Regions from separate parts of the Homo sapiens genome. Here all the other regions are linked to region 1. Evidence: fine-mapped expression QTL. A gene starts in region 1. Each other region holds a variant in brackets. All regions are shown on one strand. Distances are from middle to middle.

Region 1 (8,105 bases):
GCTTCTCTTTTATTTTTTTGAGACGGAGTCTCGCTTTGTCTTCCAGGCTGGAGTGCAGTGGCATAATCTTGGCTCACTGCAACTTCCTCCTCCCAGGTTTAAGCAATTCTCCTGCCTCAGCCTCCCCGGTAACTGGGATTACAGGCGCGTGCCACCATGCCCAGCTAAATTTTTATTTTTAGTTAGAGATGGGGTTTCACCATCTTGGCCAGGCTGGTCTTGAACTCCTAACCTCGTGATCCACCCGCCTTGGCTTCCCAAAGTGCTGGGATTACACGTGTGAGCCACTGTGCCCGGCCTGAGCTTCTAAGTGTTTAAGCTTCTGAAATGGGTTTACTCCATGCTTTCCTCTCCCAATCCAGTAATATGGAAGCTTCGGTAACTTCCAATTTAAGGAAGCAAGTCCAAGCACTTTTATTTTTATCACCACCAGTAATATAAACAGCCACTTTACTTTGGAAAGCTGACCAGGAAGAAGCCTCTTTTGCACCTCTTTGGGGTCAAAAAGTAACAATTTAATATTCCCACTATTTCCCTTATATGTTCTGTTTCTGGACAGTAAAATTCTTTCCTTGAAGGACATTAGGGCCAAAATGGGCAAGGATTCCGAGATTGGTACATCGAGCGTTATCTTCCAACTCTCTTTTCTAAATGGGCTCATTTAGTAATGCAAGCTGCTTCCTTTACTTGAAATGCCCATCTCTTGGTTACCCTCCCAAGCAAACAGAAACACCAACCAGCCAGCCCCAAAAAGATCTCATTCTCTAGCCCAGTGGTTCCCAAACTCTTGAGTCTCAAGATCTTTTTCCACACTTAAAATTTAAGGATTCAAGCTGGGCGCGGTGGCTCACGCCTGTAATCCCAGCACTTTGGGAGGCTGACGCCAGCGGATAACGAGGTCAGGAGTTTGAGACCAGCCTGACCAACATGGTGAAACCCCGTCTCTACTAAAAATACAAAAATTAGCCAGGTATGGTGGCGGGTGCCTGTAATCCCAGATACTCAAGAGGTGAGGCAGGAGAATCGCTTGAACCCGGGAGGCAGAGGTTTCAGTGAGCCGAGATCGTGCCACTGCACTCCAGCCTGGGCAACAGAGTAAGACTCCGTTGGAGACCATCACGGACAACGTGGCAAAACCTCATCTCTACAAAAAATACAGGTGGGCATGGTGGCGCCCACCTGTATTCCTAGCTACTCAAGAGGCTAATTGCTTGAGCCCAGGAGGTTAAAGCTGCAGTGAGCCTTGATTGCACGGCACTCCAGCCTGGGCAACAGAGTGAGACCCTATCTCAAAAGAACAACAAAAAAGAGAATAAACCCATTACATGTCAACATAAATCCTATTTTTATGAGAAATACCTACATTTTCTAAAATAAAATTAGTGGTAAGTGTGAGATTGTTTTAGTTTTGCAAATCACTTTAATATCTGACAGTAGAAGACTGCTGGATTCTTCTCTGCTTCTGAATCTTCTGCATTCAGCCTGTTGTGAGATCACGTATCTTGCAGCCTCTGGAAAACACTGCACACAGAGTGCAGTGTTGGGAGAAATTGACATATCATTGCTATAAAAATAGTTCTGAAGTCAGGTGTGGTGGCTTATGCCTGTAATCCGTGCACTTCAAGAGGCTGAGGTGGGAGGATCACTCGAGCTCAGGAGTTTGAGACCAGCCTGGGCAACAAGGTGAGACCCTGTCTCTACAAAACTTAAAAATTAGCTGGGCATGGTGGTGCATGCTTGTGGTTCTAGCTACCGGGGAGGCTGAGGTGGGAGGATTACTGCAGCCCAGGAGTTCGAGGCTACAGTGAGCTTTGATGGCACTACTGCACTCCAGCCTGGGCGACAGAGCAGGACCCTGTCTAAAAAAGTTTTGACTTTTGGGTCCCTTGAGTCTTGGGGCTCCCTCTGCTCGACCAAGGTCCCTAGAGAACCACTGTTTTGAGAACCACTGTTGTGGCCTGAGGCTAAGGTAATTTCAATGGTGATGGTGTTGAGGCCCAGGTGATGTTTGTGACCTTCTCCGGTGTTCCCATCGCACCTGTCCTGCTGCTGCTTATGTTTGTGAACCTGGCCAAGTTGGGAGTCTCTTGAAGGAAGACACTCAACTTTATTCACCTTTCTTTCAATTTAAATGAGTGTTTTAATGATAAAAGTAACATAGAGGCCAGGCGTGGTGGCTCATGCCTGTAATCCCAGCACTTTGGGAGGCTGAGGCAGGCGCATCACTGGAGGTTGGGAGTTTGAGACCACCCTGACCAACATGGAGAAACCCTGTCTCTATTAAAAATACAAAATTAGCTGAGCATGGTGGCGCATGCCTGTAATCCCAGCTACTCTGGAGGTTGAGGCAGGAGAATCGCTTGAACCCGGGAGGCAGAGGTTGCGGTGAGCCGAGATTGCGCCATTGAACTCCAGCCTGGACAACAAGAGTGAAACTCCATCTCAAAAAAACAAAACAAAAAAAAAACCAAAAAACAACAACAAAAACAGCTATATTATAGAAAATAGGCAATTAAAAAAAACTCACTTATAATCCCCCATACGTCATTTATTTGGTGTATGTTATCAGTCTATTTTTTTTTTTTTTGAGGTGGAGTCTTGCTCTTGTCACCCAAGCTGGAGTGCAGTGGTGCGATATTGGCTCACTGCAACCTCTGCCCGCTGGGTTCAAGCAATTCTCTTGCCTCAGCCTTCCAAGTAGCTGAGACCTCAGGCGCCTGCCACCTTGCCCACCTAATTTTTATATTTTTAGTGGAGACGGGGTTTTGTCATGCTGGCCAGGCTGGTCTCGAACTCCTGGCTTCAAGTGATCTGCCCACCTTGGCCTCCCAAAGTGCTAGGATTGACAGGCGTGAACCACTGCACCCGGCCTGTATCGGTCTTTTTTAAAATGCAGTTTTTTTAGCCTATCATCTCACCTCATAAATGAACACCATAATTTTGGGTATTGCCCCCTCTATCTAGCAATGGGTGATTTTCTGTTTCTGATGTCTACAACTACCATAATGTTCCACTGTGTAGATGTAACACAATTTACTAAATACCCAATATTAGCACATGTAGGATGCTCCCAATTTTTTGTTGTAGTTAAGTACAGTGATCCTGTGAAGAATACCTTCACACATACAGCTTTTCTGGCATTTAGTGTTATTTCCTTAGAACAGATTCCCAGAAGTAAGATCACTGGGTCAAAAGATGCAGACATTTTTATGGCTTTTAATACATACTGTAAAATTGCTTTTCGAAAGGAATATACTAATTTACAATGCCACCAGCACTTCTTTTAAGAATCCGTTTCTCCACACAAATCGTCAACATAGGTGCTATTAAGAATGCTAATCGATAAAATATTGTCCCGCCGTTGTTAAAATTTTGCAATTTTTGAGGCTCATAAAATTAAAGTTTCTTGAAGAATGAGTGTGTAACACAAAACATTCTTTTGGGACATCTTTATTTCTGGAAAACCTAAGACATTCTTACTTGTGAAGACCAGAAAAAGAACACATGTTGTTAGGATTGGCACAGAATTCAGTGTGACAGTCAATCTTAATGCCAGAACACTTGAACGAGGATTTTTCACTTATTTTGCTAGTTGTCACCAACAGTAGCAAAAGGAAAAATAAAATGCGGAAGAATGAAATGTTCTTACTGCAAACCGTACAAGATCACATTGAGGGGCTGGAGCTCTTACATTCAACTTTTCTTTCCTTTTTCTTCTTTTTAAACAATTTGCGATTGCAGCCTCTCCTTTTGTTTCCGGTATTACCTGCCCAGGAGCAGAATTCCTTACTTTCTCCGGAGAGAGGCCGGTCCCTGGGAGCGCTGCCCAGCCACCCGCACGCCTAGCCGCCCCGAGAGCCGCACTCGGCGGACCCGGTTCCTAGGCTCGTTCCCGGGGCACCTGGCGGGCGCCCACCTCCCGGGGGGCACGTGCTCCCGTACGCAGCGCGAGGGCAGCGGGTGCCTGGCTATTTATTAGGAAAAGCCCCGCGCGGACTCTCCGGATTGAGGAGGGTGGGAAACTCGGCTGCCCAGCGCTCCACCCGGGCGGCCGGGGCTGGCGCTTCTCTGCTTTCGGCCGGCGGCCTCATCCTGGGACAGGCAACCATGAGTCATCCGCTCCGCGGGTCACATGGGCAACGTGACCAAAATAAAGTTTCGGTATTTTAAGCCGCCAGAAAAGGGGACAACGGAGCTCACCGGGGGCGGGCACAGGAGGCGGGCGCAGGCGGGCGGCGCCGGGGCCGTGGGGACGCGGCGCCGAGGGGGCGGGGCCTGGCGGGAGGCTCGCCCCTCCCCCACGGCCGGCAGCGACGCCCGGACTCCTAGGCAGTCGGACTCCAGGGCGCGGCACCCCTGCGGACCTCAGCCCCGAGGCCCCCCGCGTCCGGCTCCCCACCGGCAGCGGCGGCGGGCTGCGGGATCCCGGAGATCCCGGCGCGTCCCCCACAGCCACCGGGACCCCACGCGCCAGCAGCGGCTTCCCCGGGAACGTCCTTCAGCCCCGGGAGCACGCGGGAAAAGCCCCAGCGTGCCAATGAGGGAGCGCCTTCCTCATGACGGTCACGCTCGGGGGCGGGGCTTCCCTTCGCCGCTCCCGAGTTCCGGGAACCCCCTTTGATTGGTCTGGACGGCCTGGGAAACACTGTAGTGACGCCCAATCAAAACGCCACGTCTCGGCCTCGAGGAAATATTCCGTGTCGGGCCCGTCCTGATTGGACAGTTCTTTCGGGTTCTGGCCACTAGGAAGCTTTGTTTAGGTCCGGAAGGCGGGCTTTCCTGGGAGTGGGTGGGGAGGGGGCGTTGATTCTTGACCAATCCTTTCAGTCCGTTGGGTGGTGACCAGCCAATGGGCCGGATGGATAGGACGCTCCTCCCGGAGAGTAGTGAGACCCCTGGTGCGGGGCGATTGGCGGCGGGAGCGATGAGTGGCAGCCGCACGGCCCAACGGGAGCTGTGCGTGGGCCGCGGGGCGGGGCCAGGGCGGGTGCGCGGCGGCGGCGGGGTGGCTGGGCCGGCGGCGGCGGCGGTACGAGGCGCGCGCTCGGGGTCCCGGTCGCGAGGAGGAGGAGGATGTGGCGCGCGGAGGGGAAATGGCTGCCGAAAACAAGCCGGAAGGTAAGAGCCGGAGCGCGAGGGGCTGGGGGGCGGCGCGGCGGGCGGCGGGACCCGGCCCCGCCGGACATCCCGGGCATCGGCGGCGCCGGGCGGGAGCGCGGGGGCGCGGCGGGCGGGCGGGCGGGCGACCCGGCCGGGGAGGGGGCCGGCGGGGTGGGGGGGCGGAGCGCGGCCGAGTCCTGAGGTGACTCGCGGGGCCGGCGGAGCGCGGCGCCCCACACCCCACCCCCGGGGGCGGGCTGGGGCCGGAGGGGGCGGGGGGCTCGCGGGGCGGGGACCGGGCCCAGCGAGGAGGAGGAGCCGGCGGAGGGCCGGCGCCTCCCCCACCCGGACCGGGCATCCCCGCCGCTCCCGAGCCCGCTGCGCGGCCCCCGCACCCCCGGCGCTGGGTCCACGGTGGGGGCCGCGGGGCGGAAAGTTTATCCGCCTCGGGTCCTCCTGGCCCCGCGCCCCACTGCTCCGGGCCGGTCCCCGTCGGGCGGCAGCGGCCGGCGCTCAGCCCTCGCCGGCCCCCTGCTCTCCGGCGGGCAGGGCCAGATGTACTCTCTCCGGCACCCTCTTCAGCCCCGTGGACACCTCCCTGAGCGGGCGGGGGGTCCCCGAGCTTCTCCCCGCCAGGGGGACCCCGTCCTGCCGAGCGTCCCTCGGCCGAAGGGCCTCGTGTGACCCCTCCCCCTTCGCTTCCCGGGAAGGGAAGGGGGCCTGCGCAGCATCCCCGCCCCTCGCAGTCGTTCACATCCTACTCTTGCCCTTGCACCCTCACAGCCAGGAGGGTGGGGTCTCCGTTTCTATGGCAAGTGAGGATCTCCACACTCCCTTGCCCTTTACCTTCCGTGACCCCGATCCTTCCTTGGCACAGGGGTCCGTCTGATCTGCTCATCTTCTTTGGATTCTTTTGGGGCCTCTGCACACTCTCCGTTGACCCTTTTTGCCAGGACAAGGGGACTCAGGCTGCCCATGTTCTTCTTTCCTCACCCAGTGGATAGTGGGGGCTTGTGCAGCTCTGAAGTCATTTCTAAATAGGAAAGCAGACACTTCTTCCAGATCATGCATACTCTTACACTTTGCTGGGTTAGGGCGAGCTCATTTCCTAAATACCCTTTGAGTTGCCCTCCTTTTCTTATGGAGACAACTGGACGTTCACCGTGCTCCTTTCGCCATTTGTGTGTCTACACTGACTTGTTCTCTCTTCTCGGAGTTCCTTGTCTGGGTGAGAGTGGGCGCCCCAATAAGATGTAGGGCAGGGCTTCCATTGTGCCTAGTGCTTGAGTGAAAAGGGGCCACACTAGTTGCTCCTGTGTCTGAGGAAGACCGGGGTATATTTTTGCCTCCACTTGACTCTTGTGTCTCAGGAGGGGGCAACCTTCATCAGTTGACACTACCTCACTGGGAAAAGGGTCATGTGGCCTTGTTTTTTGATGTTTTGATTACTGTCTTCTGTGCAGTGAGAACCAGACTTTGTCCGTCCCACACTCAAGAGTCCTTGAACCTTTCCTGGATATAAACTTCCCGATTGTTTTTTGAGAGAACTCATATCCTCCTCTGTGGCTTCTGCTTCGCAGTCAGCCATATTTAGTGAGCCTGTTACTTTGACTTTTTCTAATTTTCTCAAATTGTATTCATGTTGGCTGGGTAAGGAGAAGCCATATGCCTTTCCATTCAGAAAAGGGAGTGTAGACACCCGTGTCGCCCACATGCCATCCTGGAAGAGGTTGCTTGTGTGCTCCTTGTTGTACTAGAACCTTCCTTTGGCTCTGGTGTTGTCTCTTGTGGGATCCAGACATTTCTTTAGATCTTGTAGCTTTCAGAAGGGGGAATTTGAATGCTTTCTGTTTTTTGCTGTTCCGGTTCTGCTTTGGAGAACCAGATCATGATGCTATATTCATTTGTTTACATATACATACATGTAGGTATACACAGATGAAATCACATTCATTACATATACAGTGCACAGGAAGTTGGAAGGGTCAGATGACTAGCTCTACATTTTGGGTGCATATGGGGACCTTTATGTGTAATGATACAGATAGATATTAACGTTGTTGGTAACTCTTCAGGCTTAGAAGCAGCAGCAGAAGAATCACGGATAAATGGCCAATTCTGACTATTCTTTGGTTTGTAATGTGTACTGTACTGAATAAGCAGAACGACATCCTGCGTGTTCACCAAGTCCCTGAATGTGCGAAGCGTACAGTGCCTGCCCATACGCATCGCAACTTTGGCGGTCTGAATTTAGGGGTGGTATTCGTTGCTTGATTCTGCATAGAGTGAAAAGTTCTTGATTTCTTTACTGCAGTGTAGGGGAAAGAGATTTCGTGTGTTTGGACAAACGACAGGAGATGGGTGAGAAGAATATGTTTTCCTGTGACAGAACTAGGAACGAATGACCGTAAATATGTCCCTTTTGTATTTTGGCCATTTAAATAATTGAGAGAGGTTGTGAAATTAGCAAAATGTACCTGTGGAAAGGCCCTCGACGCTTCATGAGAGGATGGGGAACGTTATTCTTCAAGTTCTTTTCTCTTGGACAGGGGAATGATTTGAGCCCTGTCGGCTCTAGTCAGGTGCTTTGCCTCCTCAGGTCTCCCTCCCTCCCTCCCTCCCTCCCTTTCTCCCTCTTTCACGAAATTCAGAATGGCTGCTAGCCGCTGTCACTCAGCAGGGAAGTCTTACTCTTTGACAGGCTTAGTGTGGAGACTCATCCTCCCCAACAAGTTCCGTTGGGCTCTGGGGCTTTGGCCTTTAAAACTGTTCTAGCTCAGAGGCTCGCTTTGCCTCAGTTTACTGTGTAAGGAGAAGTGGCTCATCGGAGATTGGGTCAGCGCTAGTTCTGTGACTTCTGGACTTTGCCTTTCAGTTAGCATTGAGTCGTCCAGTGGGCCTGATTCCCAATGTCAGAAAGTAGAGCTTTTGAGCTCATTTTCTTGTTTTTGGTTTTAAATGTTTTTATGCTGTTCGTATTCTGTGTCTGTAGTCAGCTTGATGGG
Region 2 (8,105 bases), 99 kb after region 1:
TACATGTGGAATTTGAACCGGACTATGAAATCTATTTCTTCTCTAATTTGGTTCAAGACCTGAACATGTAACCTTTGAGTATACAACACAGGTTTAGATTATAAAGGCTTCTTTTCCTTTTTTCTTTTTTTTTTTTTTTTTGAGACAAGGTTCTTGCTCTGTCACCCAGATGAAGAACCCGCCCACTGGAGTGCAGTGGCATAATCATGGCTTGCTGCAACCTTGAACTCCTAGGCCCAAGCAGGCCTCCTGCCTCAACCTCCCGAGTAGCTGGGACTACCTTTGCTGCTGCGCCTAATTTTTTTTTTTTTTTTTTGGCTTTGTAGAGACGGAGTCTCTGTTGCCCAGGCTGATCTCGAACTCCTGGGCTCAAGTGTTCCTCCTGCCTTGGCCTCCCAAAGTGATGGGATTACAGGTATAAGCCACCATGCCTGGCCCTGTGGGAGGTTTCTTATAAAGTGAAACCACTTGTTACTCAGAACGGCATTATGCCTCGCTTCAGGGTAGGAAATAGAGAAGCATCAGCAAACCCACCTGGAATGGTAGGCTTTTTATTTCTCTTTCTCTAGTAGGGTTTTTTTTTAAATTTTATTTATTTTTTATATTTATCTTTAATTTAATAGAGACAGGGTTTTATTCTGTTGTCCAGCCTGGAGTTCAGTGGCACGATGATCATCACTGTGACCTCAAATGCCTAGGCTTGCCTCTGGAGTAGCTGGGACCAGAGGTGCATACCACCACGCCCAGCTAACTTTTTTGTTTTTCTTGTATAGACAGGGTTTCACTATGTGTCCAGGTTGGTCTCGAGCTGTTGGCCTCAAATGATCCTCCTGTCTCAACCTCCCAACGTGTGGGGTTACAGGCATGAGCCACCAGGCCCAGCCTCTAAAAGTGTTTTTTTTTTTTTTTTTTTTTTTTGAGACAGGGTTTCACTCTGTTGCCTAGGCTGGAGTGCAATAACATGGTCTTAGCTCATGGCAACCTCCACCTCCAGGGCTCAAGCAGTCCTCCCACCTCAGCCTCCTGAGTAACTGGGACCACAGGGGCATGCCACCATGCCCAGCTAACTTTTTGTGTTTTTGTAGAGACAGGGTTTCACTGTATTGTCCAGGCTGGTCTCAAACTCTGGAGCTCAAGTGATCCGCCCGCCTTGGCCTCCCAGAGTGCTGGGATTACAGGCCTGAGCCATTATGTCCGGCCTCTAACAGATTTTAAGGAAGCTTTTGTTCTGTCTGATATCTGTATGATCATGGGAGGGGAGTGGAGTGTTCTGCCCACCCCAGAGTGACTTAAATTCAAATATTTGTTTGTTCAATAAATACTTATTGAATACCGAGTACTAGGCACTGTCCTAGGTGTATCTAGAATGAAGCAATAAACAAAACCATGTTATTCCCCTCGAAGAGCTTATTTTCTGGTTGGGGGAGAGGAATAATAATAAACAATAAACAAAAACAAAAATAAATAACAGTAATTGCGTGCTTATATATGCCAATTACATTTATTAACTCACTCTTCAGAATACTGAGGAAGTAGCTGCTGTCATTATCCCCATTTCATAGACAAGGAAACCGAGATACAGAGAAGTTGAATTAACTTGCTCAGTGTCACATAGCTAGTAAGTGGTGCTGTTGCATTCCTGTCCAGGTCATTGGACTCCAGATTTCATGCCCTTAATCACTGTGGTATTTTGTTTCTCTTTTAAAAAACTGCCCAATCTGTTTATTTCTAAAGAAGGAAAGAAATGTCAGTGATAGTGTGGTGAACAGTGCAGCAAGGTACACAGTGAGAGGGTTCTTGCATGTCTGTTTGTGCATGCTATTCTAGTGTGACTGAGCGGGTATCTCTCATGAGGTGAATTGAAGGAAGCAACACTGTGACCACTTGAAGGAAGCAACACCGTGACCACGTAGGTGTCTAGAGTGAGTATTCCAAGCAGAGGGAACTGCAAAAGCAAAGGCGCTGAGATAGACAGAGATAGATTTGGCAATGGCGAGAGAGAAGCCAGGAGAATGACAAGGAGGCCTGTGTTGCTGTGCAGAGCGTGGGAAGGGGCACGGGAGGGGAGGAGCCAGGAAGTAGTGTCCTGTGCAGCCCCGCAGGGCTTGGCACGGTCTTTTGGTTTTGCCGAAAGAGAAGGAAAGCCACCTGAGGATTTTTGAGCAGGAAAAAGACATGACAGAAAGGATCATTCTGGGCTGGGCATGATGGCTCACGTCTGTAACCCCAGCACTTCGGGAGGCCAGTGTGGGCGGATCTTGAGGTCAGGAGTTCAAGACCAGCCTGGCCAACATAATGAAACCCTGTCACTACTAAAAATACGAAAAATTAACTGGGCATGGTGGCGGTTGCCTGTAATCTCAGCTATACGGGAGGCTGAGGCAGGAGAATTGCTTGAATCTGGGAGGCAGAGGTTGCAGTGAGTGGAGATCGCACCACTGCACTCCAGCCTGGGAGACAGTGTGAGACTCTGTCTCAAAAAAATAAAAGTAAAATAAAATAAAATAATCACTCTGAATGTAGTGCAGAGAATCTTCCAGGGCAGGGCCAGCAGACCACAGCCCATGGCAGGTTCTGGCCCACTGCCTGTTTCTATATAGCTAGCAAGCTAAGAATGCTTTGTATGTTTTTAAGTGGTTGAAAAAAAATCAGTATTTTATTTCACATGAAAATTATATGAAATTCAAATTTCAGTGTCCAGTTCCAGTTCTATTGAAACAGAGCCACACTCTTGTGTGTATTATCTGAGGCCGCTTTTGAGCTGCAACAGCCAAGCTAAGTAGTTGTAACAGGGAGCATATGGCCTGTAGAGGCTGAAAGATCTATACTGTTTGGCCCTTTACAGAAAAGAGTTGTTGATCCCTGGTTTGGGATAGAAGTAGGGAGACCAGTGAGGAGACTGTTGCAAGAACTGATGGTGCCTTGGACAGAGCAGGAAGAAATGGTCATATATGGGTTATGTTTGAAAGGAAGAGCTGGTAGACTGTATTAATATAGGAAGAGTCAGGGATGATGACTGTGTTTTTGCACTGAGTAACTGGAAGAATGCTATTCTTCTTTACTGAGATCAGGAAGACTGAGAACAGCAGGTTGGGGAGGAGGGGTGAAGAGAATGTAGGTTGTGTTTTGCACCTGTTGACTGTAAGATCAGGTGGAGATGTTCAATAGGCAGTCGTATGTTTGAGTTTGTAACTTCAAGGAGAGGCTGAGGCTGGAGCTAGATTTTGAGTGTTTTCAGCATATAGGGGGTTCTAAAAGCCGTAGGACTGGATGAAATTTTTTAGGGAGTGTATACAATAGAGAAGTCCAGACATGGAGCCCTGGGACACCCAATGTTAAGGGGAAGCGGGTAGAAGGGAGGCAAAGGAGAATGAGAAGCAATCAGAGAAGGAAGACAGGAGATGGGGGTGTCCTGGAAGTGCATGTTTCTCTTTGCTTTGCTTTGCTTTTTTGAGACAGAATGTCCCTCTGGTCTCAGCTCACTGCCATTTCCACTTCCCGGGTTCAAGTGATTCTCTTGCCTCAGCCTCCCAAGCTGGGATTACAGGTGTGTGCCACCATGCCTGGCCAATTTTTTTATTTTTAGTAGAGATGGGGTTTTGCTGGGTTGGCCAGGCTGGTCTCGATCCCCTGACTTCAAGTGATCCACATGCCTTGGCCTCCCAAAATGCTGGGATTACAGGTGTGAGCCACCGCGCCCGGACAAGGAAGCTCATGTTTCAAAGCAGAGTGATATCTATGTCAGATGCTGCTAAAGCTGGAGCAAGAAACAGACGGGTTTCACTGTGGGCTTGGTAGCGGGGCGATCGTTGGTGACTTTGATAAGAGCTGTATGAGTGAAATGGTGAGAATAAAAGCCCAGTTCCAGGTGGTTCAAGCAAAAACGACTGGATAGGGAGCTGAGCTGGTGCTCTGAAGGAATTCTGCTTTCGGCAGCCTAAGTGTAGGGCAGGAGAGGGCAGGAGAGGGCAGGGAGTTGGATTTAACCTGGGATTAGGATTTTGCCAGGTGAGTACAGTGGAGGGAGGAGGCATAAGGGAGTTGAGCATTGCGCAGAAGAATCGATGTGAGGATTGAGGATAGACCATGTGGTCTAAGCCAGGCAAGGAGCCAGGAGGCATGAAGGAGCTGAGGGTCAGTAAGAGGTCATGGGGTCAGTGGATTCAAGGAATAGGATCGAGGAGTTGTTGGAGTTGGGATAGTCGAAGAGTAGATAGAGGGCTTGAAATCGGTATCATGGAGGGGTCAGTTTTGGTTACATCAAGGTCAGGGGCTCTGCTGTACAGTAGCAGTGTCAGTGAGTCACGTGTAATTTTTAATGTTCTAGTAACCATATTTTTAATAGGTAAAAATAAAGGAAACTAATTTTAATAATATATTGTAATATATTTTATTTTACCCAGTAAGTCTACATTACATGACCATGTAGTAAGTATAAAAATTGAGAAGTTACTTATTTTGGTATGAAGTCTTTGAAATTGGTATATATCTTATATTTCCATTACCTTCTAATTTGAAGTAGACACATTTCAGGTGCTCAGTGGCT[G/T]CCTTACTGGACAGCTCATGGGATGGTCATGGAGTGTAGTCCAGGATTATCACAGGGGAAGTGTTTAAAGGAACAAGGAGGTCGTGGTTCATGAAGGATTGGCCGTGTAGATCTAAAACCATTTCTCACTCCTTCTGAGGGGAGCAAGGCTGAAGAGGAAGGAGGGGACACCATGGCAGTTGGTAGAGGTCATGTGCTTCGATGGCTGAACCTAGCAGCCTTTTACCATGCAGAGAATTTAGCTTATTCTCTAGAGACACACACACACACACACACACACACACACACACACACACACACAATTTTGTTTGGCTTTGATCCACACAATGTGTTTTTAAAGATGAATAAAAATTGATAATATCAGGTATTTTTTAGCCTCGTAGGCCAGGAAAAAGTAAAATATTTTGAAAGAGTAAACAGGAGCGTCTCAGCAGCATACATGTTACTTTTCATCTTAATCATGTGAGCCTCTCATGAAAGCCTCCAAGGAGGAGGTTAATGGATGCCCCAATTCTGTACCTTTATCAGGTTTAAGCTTACTTCAGTTTCCCTTTAGTTTGTTGCCTGCAGTATCATAATTAACCAAAGAATTCTTCTCAAAAATTACCCTCAAAAATCCTACAAACCCCACTGTTAGGAAGCGAGCCCATTTTGAGGAAGTATTTGTGAACCCTGTGTTCTTGGATGCCTTATGTGTTGAAGGAATAATTACTTGTTCATTTTGTAGTGCTAAAATCCTGGGAATGCGCAGTCTAAGCAGTCTAGAGCATGTCAGTATCCCACCTTTGGAAATCTCCTAGGAGCATGTAGAGACTCTGGTTTATCATTAACTGTGTTGCTTTCCTATCTTTTACACAAAGTATTCTCCTTCCCGCACCATTGTATTCACATGACAGAAAGCTCAGTTAATGCCTTTTAGTAATAATGAAAGCTTACTCATTACATACATTTTCTTAAACTCTCTTTATTCTAATTAAAATGTTTCCATCTGATGAGGAAGTGTATGGATACCAAGAAGTGGAAATTAAGCAAGAAATTAAAAGAACATTAATGGCTTTCTTGTAATTTGTTTTGAGGTTTTTCTTCCTGCTAAATGGTGTTTTGCTTACAGAGTCACCCCTCACACAGAAATCTTTATGATGAATGGACTGGAATAAATCCCAGCAAAAGAAGAGCTATTTTATGATACCTCTTGTAAATTACAACACATGTTATGGAAGTATTTGCTTTTTTAAAAATATTAGCTTTTTAAAGGCATTGTTAGTATAATTAATTTGGCACACACACAATTCTAGTTTCTTTGAAAGTGAAGGTCAGTGTGTGTGTGTAGGGGATTAAGAAAATGAGAGTTCTGACATTTAAAAAATTATTTTCTATTTATACCTGAGTCATTAGAATGCTCAAACCATCCAAAGTATAACATTTAAACTTGCAGTTCATTCATTCCTTCAGAAATTTGCTGCTGAAACTTAAACTTTAACCAGCATAGCCAGCGTAGCCTTAACCAGGGCAGGTATTTGGTCTGCAGTAGGCAAGCCTTTGCCCCCATCCCTCGTCTTCAGGCTGCAGAGTCCACATGCATGCCATTGCTCTGGTGGGTTCTTTTTCTGGTCATTTGGACTTGTCTCTACTAATAAAGTATTCATTAACTTGAAACTCCTACCTCTGAATGTAGATGCAGGTGAAAGCAGAGAAATACCAAACCCACCCCTTCCTGATGAAGTGCAACATGCCCCACCCAGCTGCATCTCACCTGCTGCCTCCCCTCCTCCTCCCCTGATGTGTGGACACTCTTTCTGTCCGTTCCTACTTGCTGTTCCCTTCTCTGCACGAGTCCTTCCCCTGGAGGGCAGCCCGCATGCCACTCCTCCCATGCACCTTTTCTTGGGAACTGTGTTCAGTACAGCCTGTCCTTTGGTTCACTCTTACCCTGGGCACTGCTTCCCATGTCCTGTGCGGGCCCTTGCCATAGCATATTGTGATTTATCTCTGTTGGTGTCTTTACTCCACTCAAGTGGGAGCTCCTTGGGCAAGGGTGCTGGTCCTCCCTTATTTTTGTTTTCCTTGAGCCCACCATCTGCACGTGGTTATGGGTGGATGGATGGGGGAAGTGACAGTGGGGTAACATACCTTCAAGCCCAAAATGTAAACTTAATAAGTGTTTTGGAGGAAGAGAAGAATAAATACTGTTTTTGTTTATACAGGTCTTAAAATTTTGGTAGCAGAAAGCAAATGTGCAAAGAGCAATGGAAAACAAGTCAGAAGCTGCTGTCTGATTCCAGAGGAACTCGTATTTTATGTTAAAAAAAATGTAATTGACATTTGATTGCCTTGAAATCTTCAATTTGTTGTGCTGATATCTTAAGTAACTAATTATTTAGTTGAATAACTACTAGGGAAATAGGCCATAAATGTCACTCGTGCTTTCCTTGTAAGAAGCCCACAGCTCTTCTCGCAGCATGCTCTTTTCAGTACCTGTTCTAGGTACTTGTGACTTGTGAAAGTCACTGGCCTCTGCGCATTGGGCACAGGCCTGAAGGCGATGTTTTACTCACATTTTGTCCACTGGAATTAAACAGCTGTGCTGATATTCAGTTGATTTGAGGTTTGTTTGGAAATCAGTCCCAAATTTGGGAAGCAAATGAGACAGAACCCTCCACACCCTACCACATGCTTCCAGCTCATCCCATGAAAACTCATGAGCACAGTGTGGAGTGTTTTATCTACAGCCACTCCCTTTTTGACCCTTCCCCCAAAATAGTGAGGGAGAGAAATGAAAGAACAGATCTGGGGCTTGCCTTCAGCTTCACTGTGCATTTTTGGTCATTTTGGTCATTTTAGAAGTCATCTTTCACTTGTTAGGATGTTACATTAATTGGGAGATGCTAGTCGTTTTGTTCATGGAAACCAGAGTATCCCTTTGAAGTATTATATTCTTCTAATCTATGAAACTGGCCCAGGAAGTAACAATGGGAAGTGCTGGAAATGGAATTTAAGAAGTCCACCTTCTTAGTCCTGTGCTTAAGCAGAGAGTCTCTAGCAGGGAGCCTCTGCAAGCATTGTGTTCTGTTGTATCAATATGTACTTAGATATGTTAATCTGAATTAGGGAGTTGATTGTACATAATGACTCCCCTGGGTTGCTATGTTAGAAGAAAACCCAAAACTTAAGTAGTTTGCTGAATATGCATAGTAAGTAAAAAAATTCTTCCAAAATTAGTGTTAATTGAATCTGAGCCTTGATCTTCTTTGAACCTTTAATTTTTTATTTGATCTTTTAAAAAAGTTTTGTGGCCTCTTAAAGATAAAACCTACAACCCAATAAAAGTCATGCTGTAACGATTGCAAAAAGACCATTGTATGAGACCCAGTTTTGGATTATCATAGGCGAAGAAGTCAGACATATATGGTTGTATGTACATGTGTATAGTATGTGGGTGGGGGTAGATACATACCTGTTCATCTGTATACGTATGTGTGTGTTTAATATATACTTTAGTTTGCCTTTACCCAGATGTCTCCTCCTCTCTCTGCCTCTGGAAATGGGGCAAATTTTTCTT
Region 3 (8,105 bases), 940 kb after region 1:
AGCCTTGCTTCCAGAGTCTTCACTGTAGCTGCGTGGTTTCCTTCCCTGAGCTTAAAGCAGATGGCAGCCAGCCGGGCAGACACTTGCTTTCCAAGTCAGCTCTGCTGGCCTTGGATCACTTTGACCATCCTCTCTTGCCCCTGGACAGGTGATAAAGCTGCTCACTGGTATATGAGCCACCTGGACTGCACCTGGGGAGCGGAGGCTGCTCAGGGTTCTTGCCCCAGAGTTTGGATGACCTCATCAATAAATAGGCTCCCAGGAGCTTAAATTAGAAAATAATCCTTTCCACATGCACTCACTTTCTGAATGGTGCTAGGGATACAAGACAAGGTCCCTGCTTTCAAAAAGCTCACATTCTAGCCTCTAGCAGGAATGACACCTAGGAAAAGAACTATCCCTTCATTGGCTCAGTACTGTTAGGACCCAGGGCAAAATGTGGAAGGTTTACCAGGCATAGCAGAAAGAACACTGGTCTGGAGTCCAGTCTGTGTTCAAATCTCTGCCCTGATACTTACAAGTGGTATGCTCTTGGGTAAGTAACAAATTTTCTTAGCATCAGCTTCCTCATCCGAAAATGAAGGGGAAAATCTTTATTTCAGAGTCATTTTGAGGATTAGACATAATCCATGTAAAATGTCTGGCTTACTGTAGATGTCCAGTAGCTGCTATTATTATTATTAATAATATTGGAGTGATGTCTGAGCCACACTCTGAAGAGTTAAGAAGTTCACCAGGTGGATGAGGAGAAAGGTTGGCCTCGGCAGAGGCCCAGAGGTAAGTAAAATTCCTGGTCGTGAGCCAGGAATTTTGGAGAACATTGAGTTATGAGAGAACCCTAGAAACGTAGCCTGGGATGGTTGGTAAAGAACAGTCCATTCTGTGTCACAACAAAGAGTTTACATTTTATTTTGTATGTTCAGGAGGAGGGATTTATTTTACCTTATTTTTATTTATTTATTTTTTTGAGACAGAGTCTCACTCCATCGCCCAGGCTGGAGTGCAGTGTATTTTTATTAGAGATGGGGTTTCGCCATGTTGGCCAGGCTGGTCTTGAACTCCCGACCTCAGGTGATCCGCCCACCTCAGCCTCCCACAGTGTTGGGATTACAAGTGTGAGCCACCACGCCCAGACAGAGGAGGGACTTAATTTTTTAAACTAAATTATCTGATAAAATATCAGGAACCATCTCCTGGTGTATTGCTCAGTACAACCAGGAAAATTGATTAGATTTGAAGATTGAAAGTGAGTTGTGTAAAATCCAGAGGAAGCAGTAGGTGCTGCTGGGGCCTGAGGGCCTGGGAAATCTGGCTAGGAGCTGGTTTCCTGGCATAGACACTTTCTCACTCACAGCAGACGCCCAGACACTCGGGATTCTCCACTTTTACAGCAGCAAATCCCAGCCCTTCTAAACTTAGAACACACTGTGGGTGTCTGATTTCATGAAATTGTCTCTGTCTTTAAAACATTGCTAAGGAATTTTAAACATTTAAATGAATATTAATTTGGGACATTTTAAAGTGAGTCCCTTTGAAGGTTAGGAACCCCTGTCAGAGAAAGAGGAAAAGATGTCCCATGACTGTGCTGTGTGACACTTCGTGGAACAGCTGTGATGGAGAGGCTAGGATGGGGTCGACCCAGCAAAAGAAAAGGGAATCTGAAGCCCCAACTAACCATTCCTTGACCCTTGGGCCATTGTTTGGAAGAGTTTTTTCATCTTCTTCTTGATCGTTGTAATACTCAAAGCTATTCTGGGATTATGAGTCTATTTCTATTTATACTTATGCTTTCTAATATTGTTGGAAACTAAGAATTGAAGTATAATAAGGTAAATGAATATACTACTATACTATAACCTATGCTTATACTTTTGAGATACAGGAGTTAAACCTGAAGGTCTCTTTTTTTTTTAGTTTAATATATCAATAAGGTTTCTTTTCAGCATTTCATTTATCGGTTTATTACAGCTAGGTAACACACACAGTTACTTTCATCATCATTTGATCTATTTTTAAAATGCCAGCTGGGCATGGTGGCTCATGCCTGTAATTGCAGCACTTTGGAAGGCTGAGGCAGGCAGGAGGATAGCTTGAGGCCAGGAGTTCAGGACCAGTCTGGGCAACATAGCAAGACCGCAGCTCTAAAAAAAAATACCCTCAGAAGGCTCTAATAAACACTGCAGTGCTATAGTAGACACAGAGACATCAGTAGGAACTCATGTTTACATTAGTGTGTATACAGGTAGATATATACATATATACGTATATTTCCTAGCTTTCCCATCGAGAAGGCCTAGAAGCAGTGATACCTCAATAGCAATGAACGCTCAGCACCCAGATGTTCATTTCTAAATACCGTTCTCCAATAAAAAGAACCAAAGCTCCACTCCTTAGAGAAATGGACAGTTCTAGGATTGGCACAGGGGAAATGAGAGATGAATCTGGAGCATCTTGTAATGCCAGAAAGGAAGGAAGTGCTAAAAGGAAGAAAAAAGGATGAGGGCACGTCAGAGGGGCATAAGGGTCAGCCGGAAAGAGCTCCTGATGGCCAAAGCTGGAACACTTGGAGCAACAAAATAAATAACAGTATCAGATTGTGACCCAAAGTTTAGAATAAATGTACAGGAGTCCATACTGATATAAATAAGTGATTGACTAAATACATAAATAAATAAGGACAAATCTTCCTTACAGGAGAACTCCAAATAATATATGTAGATACTCCCCCGTCTGCGAGGTGGAACTTAGTTACCCTCTTGTTGTTGGGACTGGACTTAGTGACTTAGTTCCAAAGAACGGAAAGAGAAAAATTGTAACTTCACAGTACAGCAATGTAGCAAACATTGCCTTAACCAAATGATGGAGGCTGACCTCTCCAGGACATCATTATACCTCTGATTGTATGTGATGAGCAGGGTGCCTCACCTCTGATACTCTTCCTAAAAACCCAGAACCCAGTCTAAGGGTTAGAAAACACCAGGCAAACCTAAATTGAGGGATGTCTCCAAAATACCTGACCAGTATTCTTCAAAACTGTTAAATTTTTGTTTGGAGATAGAGTTTCACTCTGTCACCCAGACTGGCAGGCTGGAGTTCAGTGGTGTGATCTCAGCTCACTGCAACCTCTGCCTCCTGGGTTCAAGTAACTCTCCTGCCTCAATCTCCCAAGTAGCTGGGATTACAGGTGCCCACCACCACACCCGGCTAATTTTTGTATTTTTAGTAGAGATGGGTTTCACCATGTTGGCCAGGCTAGTCTCAAATTCCTGACCTCAGGTGATCCACCGGCCTCAGCCTCCCAAAGTGCTGGGATTACAGGCGCGAGCCACTGCGCCCGGCCTAAAACTGTTAAAATCTTGAAAAGTAAAGGAATATGGAGAAACTGTCACAGATCCAAGGACACTAAGGAGACTTCAAAACTAAACACAATGCGGGATCCTGGGTTAGATCCTGGAACAGAAAAAGGACATTCATGGAAAAAGTGCTAAAATCGGTTTCAAGTCTTTAATTTAGTTAATAGCTCTAATATACCAATACTAGTTTCTTAGTTTTGACA[A/C]ATGTGCCATGGTTACATAAGATACCATGTTAGAGGAAACTGAGTGAGGGGCATATGGGAACTCTACGATCTTTGCAACTTATCTGTAAATCTAAAATTACTCGAAAAAATGTTTAATTTTTTAACCATGCTCCCATAGATGGGGCTGGGCAGAAGGCCCCAGTCTACTAGCTCAGGCATAAGAGAGTCATATTCCTTCAAAAGATTGCATGTATGGGCCGGGCGCGGTGGCTCACGCCTGTAATCCTAGCACTTTGGGAGGCTGAGGTGGGCAGATCACGAAGTCAGGAGATTGAGACCATCCTGGCTAACATGGTGAAACTCCATCAATACAAAAAATTAGCCAGGTGTGGTGGCTCATGCCTGTAGTCCCAGCTACTCGGGAGGCTGAGGCAGGAGAATGGCATGAACCCAGGAGGCGGAGGTTGCAGTGAGCCGAGATCGCACTACTGCACTCCAGCCTGGGCAACAGAGCGAGACTCTCAAAAAAAAAAAAAAAAAAAGATCGCATGTATTAGTTTATTTCATCCTCACAAACAAGAAGGGATATGTATATAAATATCCCCATTTTACAGATGAGAAAATTGAGGTGCAAAGTGGGAATCATTTTTCCAAAGTCACACAGTGACAGGATTAAACCTGGGGCTCTTATTTCTACTCCAGTGTTCTTTGCACTGTCTCAGAGCTGCCCAGGCTGAAACTGCTGCTTCCACAAAAAAGGAGCACAGGGAGAAGAGGTTCATGAAGAGAAGCTTTGAATGAATCAGGAGCCGGACGGTTGCTATGAAAGCCGTCAGAATGATTGAGTTTTTGTCCGGGGATTTACATGCGCGTGCATGTCTGGAAGGTAGCGGGAAGGAACTACTGCATGAAGGTGAATGTATCCTTCCTCATTCCCTGGAACCTTTCAGGAAAATAGACTGCTTTAGAGAAACACGAGAGGCGGAGACAGACACCTGGAAAGACAGCCCATGTTGTCAGCTGAGTAAAGGACAAAGTAATAAAGAGGTCAGATGCAATGGGAATGGTAGAGGAGTACTTGATCCGTTGCAGACAGCAGTGCAGGTGGCTGGGTTTTAAATCGTTTTCGAGTATCGCCTGGTCTGAGTTGGGGTGCTTGAGAAGAAAATGTGCACCCAGTTATTGTCAACAGAGCTACTGCGGATGGCTCTGGCATGGTTCACATGAGGTGATGCCTCACATACCCATGCTGGGTAGGAATCTCTGCTTCTGTTTGAGCAGGTGGTTCTGGGATCATTCTTAACAGGCACTTGGGTGGAGGAGAGAGGAGTCATTCTTTCACTGTGGAAACAGGCCAGGGTCTTAGGGCAGCGGTTCTTGAAATGTGGCCCTAGACCAGAAGCATCAGAACTGCCTGGGACCTTGTTAGCAATGCAGCCTCTGGGTCTCACTCAGACCCACTGGACCAAAACTCTGGGAATAGGGCCCAGCAGTCTGTCTTAAGAAGCCCTCCTAAAGTTTGAGAACCTCTGGTCTAGAGGAATGGTCACTGGGATGAGCAGAAGCCGCCATCTAGGGCAGCACACAGCCTCCAGCCAGGAACAGGCGGGTGGGTCACACACACAGACTCACAGCCTCCAGCCAGGAACAGGCGGGTGGGTCACACACAGACTCACAGCACACGGCCTCTAGCCGGGAACAGGCAGGTGGGTCACGCACGGAGAGTCTGCCACTGGAAGGGAAGCTGAGACTCACACCCAGAGGTTCTGCACCAGAAGTAAGACATCATTCAGAGCTCACTTTGCCTGAGTCTTTAGATCCAGGAGTTATGGGACTTACCCAGAGGGGTTAAGAGTTGGGGAACCTCAGCCCAGTTGACACTTTATTTTGTATCATTTGATACTTCCTTGTCTGTCAAAGGATTTTTTTTTGCTTTTGCCTTTTCCTACTCTGCCCTGCTCTTCCATGCCCTCAGAAAGTTTATAGTTTCGCTGGGGAGGACATGGCTGATAGCTCAGTGTAGTTCTGGATCTAACATTCACCTATACACCCCGCAGGATACAAACTATATGTATTTATTTATAGCCTCCTATGTGGCCACAAAAGTTTGGTCATTGTTCCCACTTGAAGGTAGGGTATCATTGCAACTAACTTTTGTGAGGTTTGTATTGATACCTAGAAGGCTCTAAGTAGGTGGCTCTTTATACTGTTTTTTACTGAAGCATGTATGTGTAGAAATGTTATGTAAATTTTTATTTTCTTGGGTAAAATGCTTAGGATGGTGGTGTCTGTCTCTGGGTTATGCGTCTGTCATCCTCATGTCTTCAACAGGAGGCCAGCCTGTGTTACTAGAAACAGGCCTCTGTGCACCTCTTTTCTGTACCCTTGCCCAGAGTTCACTCGCTGCAGCAAATATAGAGTGCCTGTTCTGTGATGAAGCAGGAACTTGTTCTTCCGGTGCGACGGATATAGCCTAATATTTCAGGATAAGAACTAAAAATCTCAGAACCGCCAGGCAGGAAGTGGAGCTAGAGCAGCTGGCTTTCTTTGCGGGGACCTCTGGAGCCTCCTGTGGCCTTGAGCCACCTCTGAGCCTCATGTGCCCATGGAAACTTGCACTTGTAACTTTCCTTCTGTGCAGAATTTTCTCCCGATGGAGTAGTTCAGCTGCTTCACTTGGACTGTCCTAAGGACATCCACTTGGAAGCCCTCAAAGCTCACCCTGTTGTCTTTGTTTGAAGCATCATGGGTAAGAACTAGGACCAAACTCATCAGCTCCCTAAATCTACGCATTATTCCTACTCCCCTTTCTCTGCCTTGTATTAATTTTTTTTTTTTTTTTTTTGAGACAGAGTCTCGCTCTGTCGCCTAGGGTGGAGTGCAGTGGCGCGATCTCGGCTCACTGCAAGCTCCGCCTCCTGGGTTCACGCCATTCTCCTGCCTCAGCCTCCTGAGTAGCTGGAACTACAGGCGCCCGCCACCACACCCGGCTAATTTTTTGTATTTTTAGTAGAGACGGGGTTTCACCGTGTTAGCCAGGATGGTCTGGATCTCCTGATCTTGTGATCCACCTGCCTCGGTCTCCCAAAGTGCTGGGATTACAGGCGTGAGCCACCGCGCCCAGCCTCTGCTTTGTATTAATTTAAAACTCCAGGTTTGTTCGGGCTGCAGAAATTATCTGTTGGTCGACAAAAGAGGGCAAGGATATTTTCACTGCTGTTCTAAGTACTCCCTACTGCCTGGTGCATACATAGTAGGTGCTCCAGTGAATATTTGTGCATGAATAAGTGAATCTTTCAAATGTACTTATTTACTCTAATGTAATCAGAAATTCTTCTTTGCTTCTAAGTAATTGTATTCCCTATATCCCGTAATCACACACAGCATACAGTTAAAGCAATGCACAGCTCTCAATTTGCCAAATATTTCACAGTGTTTTAATTATCCTAATAAAGCTGTAAAACCAAAACAAGCGTAAAGGCGTTGCTTTTGGCTTGCTAGTGTGGAGATGTAAAGACCATCATTTTATCCATCTAAGCCTTACAACCTCAAGAGCTGGGCCCTGGCCCCGTGCAGAGGAAAGGACATGTGAGGAGAAAGTCTCTCTGAACTTGCATAGCACAGTGCAACAGACCGCACTCCCTGGGTGCCAGCTCAGTCATTTGCATTTGAGATTGGTTTTTTATTTTAATTATCACTCGCTTCCCCTTTGGAATTGAGAGGCTCAGAGATGCCGTTATGCATGATATGATTTTGTTAAGAGGCACATAATTGCTTCTGAGTATTTTCATGAGGTGCTTCTCAGAGCAGCTTAATATCATGCACTCATGGCATAGCAACAGGGAATGCAGCTGGGGAACAAAAGCTGGTCACCTCTGTGGCACACACAGAGTCACTGTGACTGTTGGAGGGGTTGACCGGGTGACGCCGTGGGCAGGGCCTGACTCAGTGATGTCAGGGAAGGTCTGTTTCTGCAGTGCCCGTGCTTGGCGGGGGGATGGGCAGGGGACAGCTGATGCGGGGACCGCACTGCAGCACACTGCAGCACAAAGCCACCTCCACGGGCAGCAGGCAGGCTCGCTCCAGGCTGACCACAGCTCAGAGAGCACCTTTGGTGCTTTTCTGCCCCTTTGTCTGCCACCGGATGTTGATCTTGGCCACTCAGTTGCAGATTGGTTCCAGAGTGCTCTGGAACAAGTGAAATGGATGCTGAAAACTCGTTAACCAGATGCAAGATTTGTAGACTTGCAGAAGAAATCACAGATCTGTGGCTATGGAGGTTTAAAATTCAGTCAAGTCATTTCAATGGGATGCATAACGATCTCCAAGTAGGTTCCGAGATCAATGGTTGTCTGGCTTAGCAGCATCAGGAATAAGCAGAGGAGTTTATAATATCCTGCAAAGGGCAACTGCCATGCTGCTTGGAACTGAACTCTAACTGAAGAGTCAACTTCTTAGGCTTCACATGGAAGAGACCTGTGATCTGCAAGATTTCAGATTTCTAACAAAGAGGCATGGCATCTGGAGTAAAGACACCAGCGCAACCTCTGTAGTCATCTTGTGTTTTCTGCTGGTGGTCACAGGATGA
Region 4 (8,105 bases), 920 kb after region 1:
CATCAGTGCCAGGCACTGGTACATGCACCTTCCACCTATTGATTCCTTTAACTCCCGCACCATAGATATGAAGGCACAGACAGTGGAGCACACAGCTAGCAACGAGCCCACTCTGAACCCAGGGGGGTTGGTTTCCCGAGCCTATGTGTCCCTGATGACTACCCTTTCATTGCCGCCCTGGAAAACAAACAGAACTCACTCACTGTGTACTGCAACACCAACACATAACAAAGCTGGAGGTTTGGTTCTGCTGAGAGCGTCAGGAAAAGCCACTGAGGGTGGCCAGATTTGAGCTGGACCTTGATGAATGCATAGGAGTCTCCCTAGCAGATAAAGGGGAGGAGTTGCATAGCAAAGGTGGTGGGGGGAGCGTGCAAGGGGTCCTGCGTGGTGACCCGGGGGGCGGGCGAGGGGTAGACAGGTGCAGTGGGAATACTGACCTAGAGCAGGATTGGAATATGTACTGGGGCTTTGCCAGGGCAGGCTTCGGAACAGGAGAGGAACTTGCTCAGGTTTACAGTGGGTGGCAGCCCCCAAGGGAAGCCATGGACGATCTACCGGCATGGGCAGGACCCAGCTTGGTCAGGGTGTCCTTCACGCGGCCTCTAACCAGCGATTCCTCATTGGGTGTACAGGCTTAAGGGCTCTGCAAATGTTGGGGTTGTTTCTGTGTGCGTTTGGGTAGGGTCAGAAAAGAGACTCCGCCCCCAATTTCGAGACACCTTTTTACCCAGGTGGCAGAGACATGGCCGATTTTACAGATAATTGACTGTATCTATATATCTATATCTATTAGTATATAACAAAAACAAAATAGGCGGTCTCATCACAGGTCTTGGGGTCAGGCACTTTCTCTGTGCGAGGCCGTGGGACTGCAAACAGCACAGGGAAAAAAGAAAGCGGGATCCGCTCGGGACGCCTGAGCCTCGATTAAGAGGTGCGGCTCGGGATTTGTGGCCGGGGCGAGAGACCCTCACGCAGAAGTCCCCAAGTGCGCAGGGCTGGAGCTGGAACTTTGGAACGCGGAGGTTAGACCCAAAGGGTGGGCGGAGCCTGCACTCCAGCTAAGGGGGCCCAGCGCCGCACCCCCTCCCCAAAGCCGGAGCCGCCGCCACCGTCCCCGCCCACCGTCCTCCGCCCCGCCCTGGCCCTCCCCGGGTCCTCGGGCCCCGGCCCCCTCCCTCCAGCCTGGCCCCCACGCCTCCCCGCTCGTTGCGCAGCGCCGGCTCCTCCCGCCGGCTGCATTGCAGACGCCGCCGCCGCAGGGCGCGCCGGGGCCGCGCAGGGAGCCCGAGCCCGGGAACGCGGGCCCTCGGCGCGGAGCTTCGGGCGGCCCCGACGGCGCGGGGAGCCAGGCAGGGCGGGCGCGGGGCGGCCCCGCGGGAAGGGGAACGGGAGGCCCGCGCGGGGCTCCGGGGGCCGTCGGCCCGGGCAGCGGGCGCAGCCGTCGGGCTCCGAGCCGTCCCGGCCTCGAGGGAACCGTCGCCGCCCCATTCGCGGGCCGCGCTGAGCCGGGCGGGCGGAGCGGCGGGGACCGCGTCGCGAGGGACCGGGGGCCCGGCTCTCGCGCGGGGACGCCCGGGCCGCGCTCCGCCCGCAACCTCCGGCCGGGCCCCCGCCGTCCAGCGCGGCTCGGGCGCAGTTCCGGCGCAGTCCCCGCGCCGAGCGGCTCCGCGCCCCGCACCAGCCTCTGCCCGGCTCCGGGTGACGTCGCATCCTCCGATTGGACCACGCGGCCTGGGGGGCGGGGTCTGGTCCGGTGAGCTCACCGCCGCGCCCCGCCATTGGTCCGGGCGGCGCACTCGGGCAGTGGCGGGGAGACCGCGGTACCCGGAGCCCCGCGAGTCGTTCCAGCTGCGGCGAGTGGAGCTGAGCGGGCGCGGGGCCGGGCTGGGCCGGGCCGGGCGGGGCCGGGCGGGGCGCGGGAGCCAGTGAGCGGCGGCTCGGCGCAAGCCTGACGAGCAGGAGCCGAGCTCAGCAGGTCCGGGTAGGTGCGCGGCGGCGCGGGGCTAGGCGGAGGGCGCGTGCGGTCGAGGGCGGCGGCCGGCGGGGGCGCGCGCGGGGCGGGGGCGGGGCCGGGGCGTGGGGACACGCGTGCTCGCGGGCCGGGGGCGTGGTGCGCGGCCACGCGTGTTTCTGGCGCGAGTGTGCGGGGCCAGGCCGGGAGGGCGTGCGCGGACCGGGCGTGTTTACGCGCGGCAGGGAGGGGCCACGAGGGTGCGCGCGTTTCTGGCGCGAGTGGGAAGTGTGGGGATCCGGCGGGCCCGGTGTGAGGGGCGTGTTTCTGGGGCGAGAGTGGGGAGTGAGTGTGAGGAGCAAGGGTGAGGGGCTGCAGGGAGGGGTGCGTTTGGCCGAGGAGTGGGTGGGAGACACGCGTGTCCATGCCGCGAGGGTGTGTCGACGCCCGAGCCTGCGTGGGGCCCGGGGCCGTGTGTCTGGAGTGGCCGAGGGCGTGAGGGGCGCGCGTGTTTGTGCGAGGGGCGTGTGCGGCGGGTGTGAGCCACGCGTGTCTGGGTGCGCGCGCGGGCCGGATGAGCTTCTGGAGTGGTGCGAGGACGCGCGCGTGTGTCTGTGTCGGAGCGAGGGCGGGGACGAGCGTGTCGGGCGCGCGCGGGCGGGGCTGGGGCGGCGTCGGGGCGCGCGGGGGCCCGGCCCGGCCGGCGGCGAGTGTGTTGGGGCGCTCGGCTTCTCCTCAACACGGGTTTTTGGGACCCAGTGCCGCCTCCTTCCCGCGGCGGGGCCCGCGGAGCTCCCGGTTTCCCTGGGCAGACAGGTGCGAGGCGAGGTGCGGGCACAGCCCTGCGCTCCTCAGCGGGTGCGGGATCGGGCGACGGGGGACTGTCTCTAACTACAGACCAGGGGAGCGGAGGGACGCTCGATTCACCCGCGTGCACAGGGCAGTCCTGAAAGTGGATGGAAGGCTCGGAGGAACTTCTGAGAGCTTTGCTTCCCTGCAGACTGGCGACCAGAGAGCACTTTCCACGCGCAGATGGGCCAGGATAGATGCTCGGGGTGGCCCTTTTGCATTTTCGGAGCTCTGGTGATTGGGTTTCTAGGTATTGCGCCTCTTTAGAGGTGGCGCTGATGGCGTTCTGGTGTTTGAGACTTTTTCGATCTCTGTAGATTACTGCAGACATCAAAAGCATTTCTCTACAAATCAGGTATCAGAATAGATTTCTGAAATGATGATATTCTTGCAGACTGTCTTCTTAATCAGTTGCCTCACCAGGGAAGGACGACAATTTTAAAGTCCATTTTCTATTTTGCCCACTTTTACTTGATAGGATTTCTGCTGGCAGCCTGAAGTATCTAATCCCGGAAGCGGACTCAGTAAACGTGAGAGGTGCCCTCAGATAACTACAGAAATGCCTCCTGTGTTTGGTTGCTTGAATGAATGCATTATATTTTTTCCACCAGTGAGGCCAACCCCTGACTTTTTAAAATTGTGCTCCCAAGTTTTATCGATAAAATGTCTGGCTATTACATACAAGGAGTCTTTTTCTCTTACTACCTTGAGGAACTGAAGTGTTCCGTTTCCCTGCAGAATCTGTGTCTTATCGAGAAACTATTGCTGGGAACCGGATCAAGAGAAATGCATTATGCAGAAGCACTTTTCCTGCTGTGTGTTTAGAAAAAAAATAGTTATTATTCCAAGACCAGAATTAGACACTAGCAAATAAATTTGTTTCTCTTTTTCTTTGTATTAGATTTAGAGAGTAATAATGTTTAATGTCCAAGAAAATAGCATTTACTTACAGCGTATGCATTTCCTAAATAAATTTAACCTAGTAGTGAAAAGAAGCAGAGAACTGCTGTGTATTCCTGAGAGACCTTGATGAGGTCGTCCTGATTAATTATAATCTGAACAACTCAAATGGAAATACAGTATTTCATGTACTCGTTAATAACAGTCTTGTTTGTATTATTTAAGGATTTGGCTTTGGTGATACCCTGGCGGATGCATTATTTCAGGCTATTCTTTTTTTTTTTTTTTTTTGAGACGGAGTCTCGCTCTGTTGCCCAGGCTGGAGTGCAGTGGCATGATCCCGGCTCACCACAACCTGCACCTCCCGGGTTCAAGTGATTCTCCTGCCTCAGTCTCCCGAGTAGCTGGGACTACAGGTGCGCGCCACCATGCCCAGCTCATTTTTGTATTTTGGTGGAGATGGGGTTTCACTATGTTGGCCAGGCTGGTCTTGAACTCCTGACCTTGTGATCTGCCTGCCTCAGCCTCCCAAAGTGATGGGATTACAGGCGTGAGCCACCGTGCCTGGCCCAGGCTTTTCTTTAGTCTTCTATTTAGGACTGAACTGGGCCTTTACTAAGAGCTGTCACTGCTGCAGTGTATTCATGTGGGGCTGTTCTAGAATCCAGTACGTGAATAACAAGTGGAACTGAGTATTATTTACTTAATATGAGAAAGATAGCAAAGTTAAAGCATTGGTTGATATGAAAGTTTCCCGAGTGAAAGGTGTGAGGCTCTTTTTGAAACAGGT[T/A]TCACTCTGTCTCCCAGGCTGGAGTGCAGTGGCATGATCATGGTTCAGTGCAGCCTCCACCTCCCGGGCTCAGGTGATCCTCCCACCTCAGTCTCCTGGGTAGCTGGGACTACAGGTACACACCACCATGCCCGGCTAATTTGTTGTATTTTTTGTAGAGATGAGGTTTCTCCATGTTGCCCAGGCTGGGCTCAAACTCCTGAGCTCAAGTGATCCACCCGCCTTTGCCTCCCAAAGTGCTGAGATCACAGGCGTGATGGTGGGAGAAGTCCAGATGTGATGTATTGAATTACATTAAAAACCACAAGTTAGTATTACTCACATTTAACATTTCAGAAGTGCTTATTAGCCTGCTGGGTGATACCAATGGGTAGTGTCACATCATGTCATGGGGATGTTGGCGTTCATAGTCATGGAGACCTTCAGTTAGAGTCTTCTCCTCTTCTTGAGTGAATTGCCCTGAAGTCAAATGACCATCTTTTCTTTGCTATTCTCTTATGTGACTACATTTGGCTTAACATGACAGGCAGACAAGGAGATGCCGTCGCCATCAGGAGATAGTTACTCTTCACCCCACAGGCAGTACAGCAAGTGACTCATTAAAACCATGATATGATACCTTGTGAATAGTAAGTTTAAAAATACGGCCAGGTGTGGTGGCTGACACTTGTAATTCTAGCACTTTGGGAGGCTGAGGCAGGTGGATTGCTTGAGCCTAGGAGTTCAAGACCAGCCTGGGCAACATGGAGAAACCCCGTCTCTACAAAAAATACAAAAATTAGCCAGGTGTGGCGTTGCATGCCTACAGTCCCAGCTACTCAGGAGGCTGAGGTGGGAGGATCGCCTGAGCCTGGTAGGTGGAGGTTGCAGTGAGCTGTGATTGTGCCATTGCACTCCATCCTGAGCAACAGAGTGAGACCCCATCTCAACAAAACAAAACAAAGAATAGCCAGGCGTGGTGGCTTTCACCTCTAATCTCTGCACTTTGGGAGGCCAAGGCAGAAGGATTGCTTGAGCCCAGGAGTTCAAGGCTGCAGTGAGCCATGATCATGCCACTGCTATGCAGCCTGGGCAACAGCAAGACCCTGATTCAAAAAAAAGAAAAAGACAGTGGAGGGGGAGAATGCCAGTATGATCTTGTGTAATGCTTTATTTCAGTAAAGTTCCTTTGATAGACTAACTGGAATTTTAGTTTATAAAGTATCGTGATCCCTGTAATTTGCTTAATTTTATATTGTCTTATAAACATTGAAAATAGAGCATAGCTTTAGACATGATGTGGAGAGACTGGTCAGCTCATCTTTGAAGCACCTACTATACATCAGTTGCTTAGCAAATTAAAACTAATAATTAAATATTACTTTGAGGAAGGTAAAGTATACGGAGTTTAATGAGGGTAAATGTTTCTAGGAGTTAAAGTGCTGATCATAAAGCTACATAATGTTTTTGTAATGTGGAAGGTGATGATAAGTCATGTAAATAAATTTCTCCATTATATTAAACTAATATTTATCAACTACTAAAAATTAATCATTCTCTCCATTTTTTCAGCTTTCGTGTTTCACCTGACTTTCACCACCCCATACATCATGTTTCACTCTCCAGCTGGCCACACCCCATCCTCAGCCACACAGCATGAGCCCTCTGTCACACGCAGCCAGGCTGGTGTGCTGGTGTGCTGGTGTGCCTACCGTCACCCATACTCCATGTTAAATTCTGTCTCTTTTTTCCTTTGAGCCTCACTCAAGTCTTATTAATGAAGCTTTTTTTCTCCCCTCCCAGATTAGATTAACAGCTGTTTATGGGGTGCAGAGGGGCCCCACCTAAGCTGTATCTTCTACTATGCCTAGCATAATGCCATCTGGGACTTGAAGTTTCATGAATACTGTTAGTTGGCAAAGAAGTTATCCAGCGTGATGCTACTCATTAGATAGGGTGAGGAGACTGTAATGAAATGTGTTTCTTCAAGCCCAAGACAAACGTGATCCTACTCCGTGCCTTTGGTTCAGTCTTGTTTGTTGGTCATTTAGGCACAAACTCCAAATGATTTCCCATGCAGGTCAGTTCAAGGAGGAGTGAGAGGGTCGAAAATCAATCTATGTGGATGTGAATCTAAAGCCAACTGGTGGATGTGAGTTTTCACTTAGGTGGTCTTGAGGTGGCCCTAAAAATCCTGGACACTGTACCAGTGTAAAATAGGCCTGACACCTGAATCATTTTCCCAGACTGAGAATATTGGCCAGAAGCCCACTGTCTAGGGATGTGTGTAGGTAACAGCTGTTCTCTTTCATATAATACAGCAGGATGGGCACTGGGTGTTTCAGCTCTACCATTCACTCAGTGAGAAACCTTATGTAAATTACCTTGTATCTCCGGCTCTCTTACCTGTTTTCCAAACCCATTAGTGGTTCAGAAAAGCATGGTCACCATCATCAGATTTTAAAATCAGAGTGCATTGCACATAGTAAGCGTAAGTATTGATTTGGGAAGCTTTTTGGTTTCCATATGGGAGTGTGTGTGCTGGCTTCTATTTCTTTCTGTGGACCACAGTTTAAAAAAGTTGAAAGCCACTAGACTGGATATTTCCTAATTCTCTTTCAATTCAGCTATTCTGCTGTGATTCTTTTCTGTGGTATGTGTCTGTTATGACGCCACATTTAGCAGTCGCATAAGGCCTGAAAGAGTTAAGATACCTCCATATGTATGAATTCAACAGATAGTCTCCAGCCAGGCCAGAGCTCAGTATACCTTTCCTTGTCTTACTGAATGTTTTGGCAGTCAACATTGAATCAGTGTTTTGAATAAGCAAGACAGTTTATTGCTACTGTCATTTATCACATGTTTTGTAGATAAATTCTAATGCTGCAAGTGACAAAACTCCACCTCAGACTGGCTTACATAAAAAAGGGAACTTGGCCGTGTGTTGGCTCACACCTGTAATCCCAGCATGTTGGGGGGTCGAGGCAGGAGGATCTCTTGAAGCCAGGAGTCTGAGACTAGCCTAGGCAACATAGCAAGACCTCATCTTTAAAAAAAATTTAAAACAAATAGCTGGACACAGTGGCACACACCTATAGTCCCAGCTACTCAGGAGGCTGAAGCAGGAGGATTGCTTGAGCCCAGGAGTTTGAGGCTGCGGGTGAGCCACGATTACACCACTGCACTCCAGCCTGGGTGACAGAACGAGACCCTGTCTCAAAAAAAAAAAAAAAAAAAAAAGAATTTATTGACTCTTAGGAAGTCCAGAATTAGTGTTATCTTCAGCTAGAACTAGCTCTAGATGTACAATGATGTCATTAGGCCTCCCCCATTGCCCCCACCCCACTCTCCTCCTCTATGTTAATTTTATTCTCAAGCAGGGAAGGGTCCCCAATATGGCAGCAGCAAGATGGCCCACTCTGAGCTACAGGCTTATCGTCTGCCAAATTACCAGATGTCTCCAGGAAGACAGCTCTTATTTCCCTGTAGTTCCAGGAAATGTCTCATCTCTTATTGGCCCATCTTGAGTCACGTGTCTAATCTCTTGAATAAGGGGACATGGTCCTCTCATTCATAAGGCCTGGCTCATACACCCCTGGAGCCAAGAATTGGGCTCTGCGCCACCTAAAC

Direction of the effects. Alleles are on the strand shown, and positions count from the first base shown. SD is a standard deviation of normalised expression in the study named. Not every link is listed here.
With allele A in place of C in region 3, the expression in prefrontal cortex of the gene that starts at base 4,997 in region 1 is higher (small effect, 0.20 SD a copy in CommonMind).
For the expression in cerebellum of the gene that starts at base 4,997 in region 1, allele A in region 4 goes with a higher level than allele T (moderate effect, 0.43 SD a copy in GTEx).

What was found. PIP is the estimated chance that this variant, and not a neighbour inherited with it, causes the effect. A credible set is the group of variants that fine-mapping cannot tell apart.
Region 2: its variant is the best candidate, but not a certain one, in a credible set for the expression of CAMTA1 in whole blood (INTERVAL, PIP 0.61).
Region 3: its variant is the best candidate, but not a certain one, in a credible set for the expression of CAMTA1 in prefrontal cortex (CommonMind, PIP 0.72).
Region 4: its variant is the best candidate, but not a certain one, in a credible set for the expression of CAMTA1 in cerebellum (GTEx, PIP 0.81).

The regions. Positions count from the first base shown.
Region 1 is chr1:6,780,458-6,788,562 of GRCh38, forward strand. It overlaps CAMTA1 (calmodulin binding transcription activator 1), which reads left to right and starts at 4,997. Exons shown (of 23, transcript NM_015215.4): 1 at 4,997-5,118. The coding sequence starts at 5,074. CAMTA1-DT (CAMTA1 divergent transcript) reads right to left here and starts at 4,523. Exons shown (of 3, transcript NR_149049.1): 1 at 4,201-4,523; 2 at 3,692-3,766; 3 at 3,435-3,588. RefSeq lists enhancers at 3,363-4,039, 4,040-4,714 and silencers at 3,840-3,899, 3,980-4,039, 4,170-4,579, 4,920-5,079, 5,290-5,559 and 1 more.
Region 2 is chr1:6,879,490-6,887,594 of GRCh38, forward strand. All of the region lies in intron 3 of CAMTA1 (calmodulin binding transcription activator 1), which reads left to right. Among named protein-coding and RNA genes, the nearest start is that of CAMTA1, 98 kb to the left of the region's middle. The variant G/T (reference allele first, on the strand shown) is at 4,547.
Region 3 is chr1:7,720,779-7,728,883 of GRCh38, forward strand. All of the region lies in intron 11 of CAMTA1 (calmodulin binding transcription activator 1), which reads left to right. Among named protein-coding and RNA genes, the nearest start is that of VAMP3, 46 kb to the right of the region's middle. The variant A/C (reference allele first, on the strand shown) is at 3,557.
Region 4 is chr1:7,702,908-7,711,012 of GRCh38, forward strand. All of the region lies in intron 11 of CAMTA1 (calmodulin binding transcription activator 1), which reads left to right. It overlaps LOC105376689 (translation initiation factor IF-2), which reads right to left and starts at 1,655. Exons shown (of 5, transcript NR_188653.1): 1 at 441-1,655; 2 at 204-323. RefSeq lists a silencer at 1,576-1,995. The variant T/A (reference allele first, on the strand shown) is at 4,497.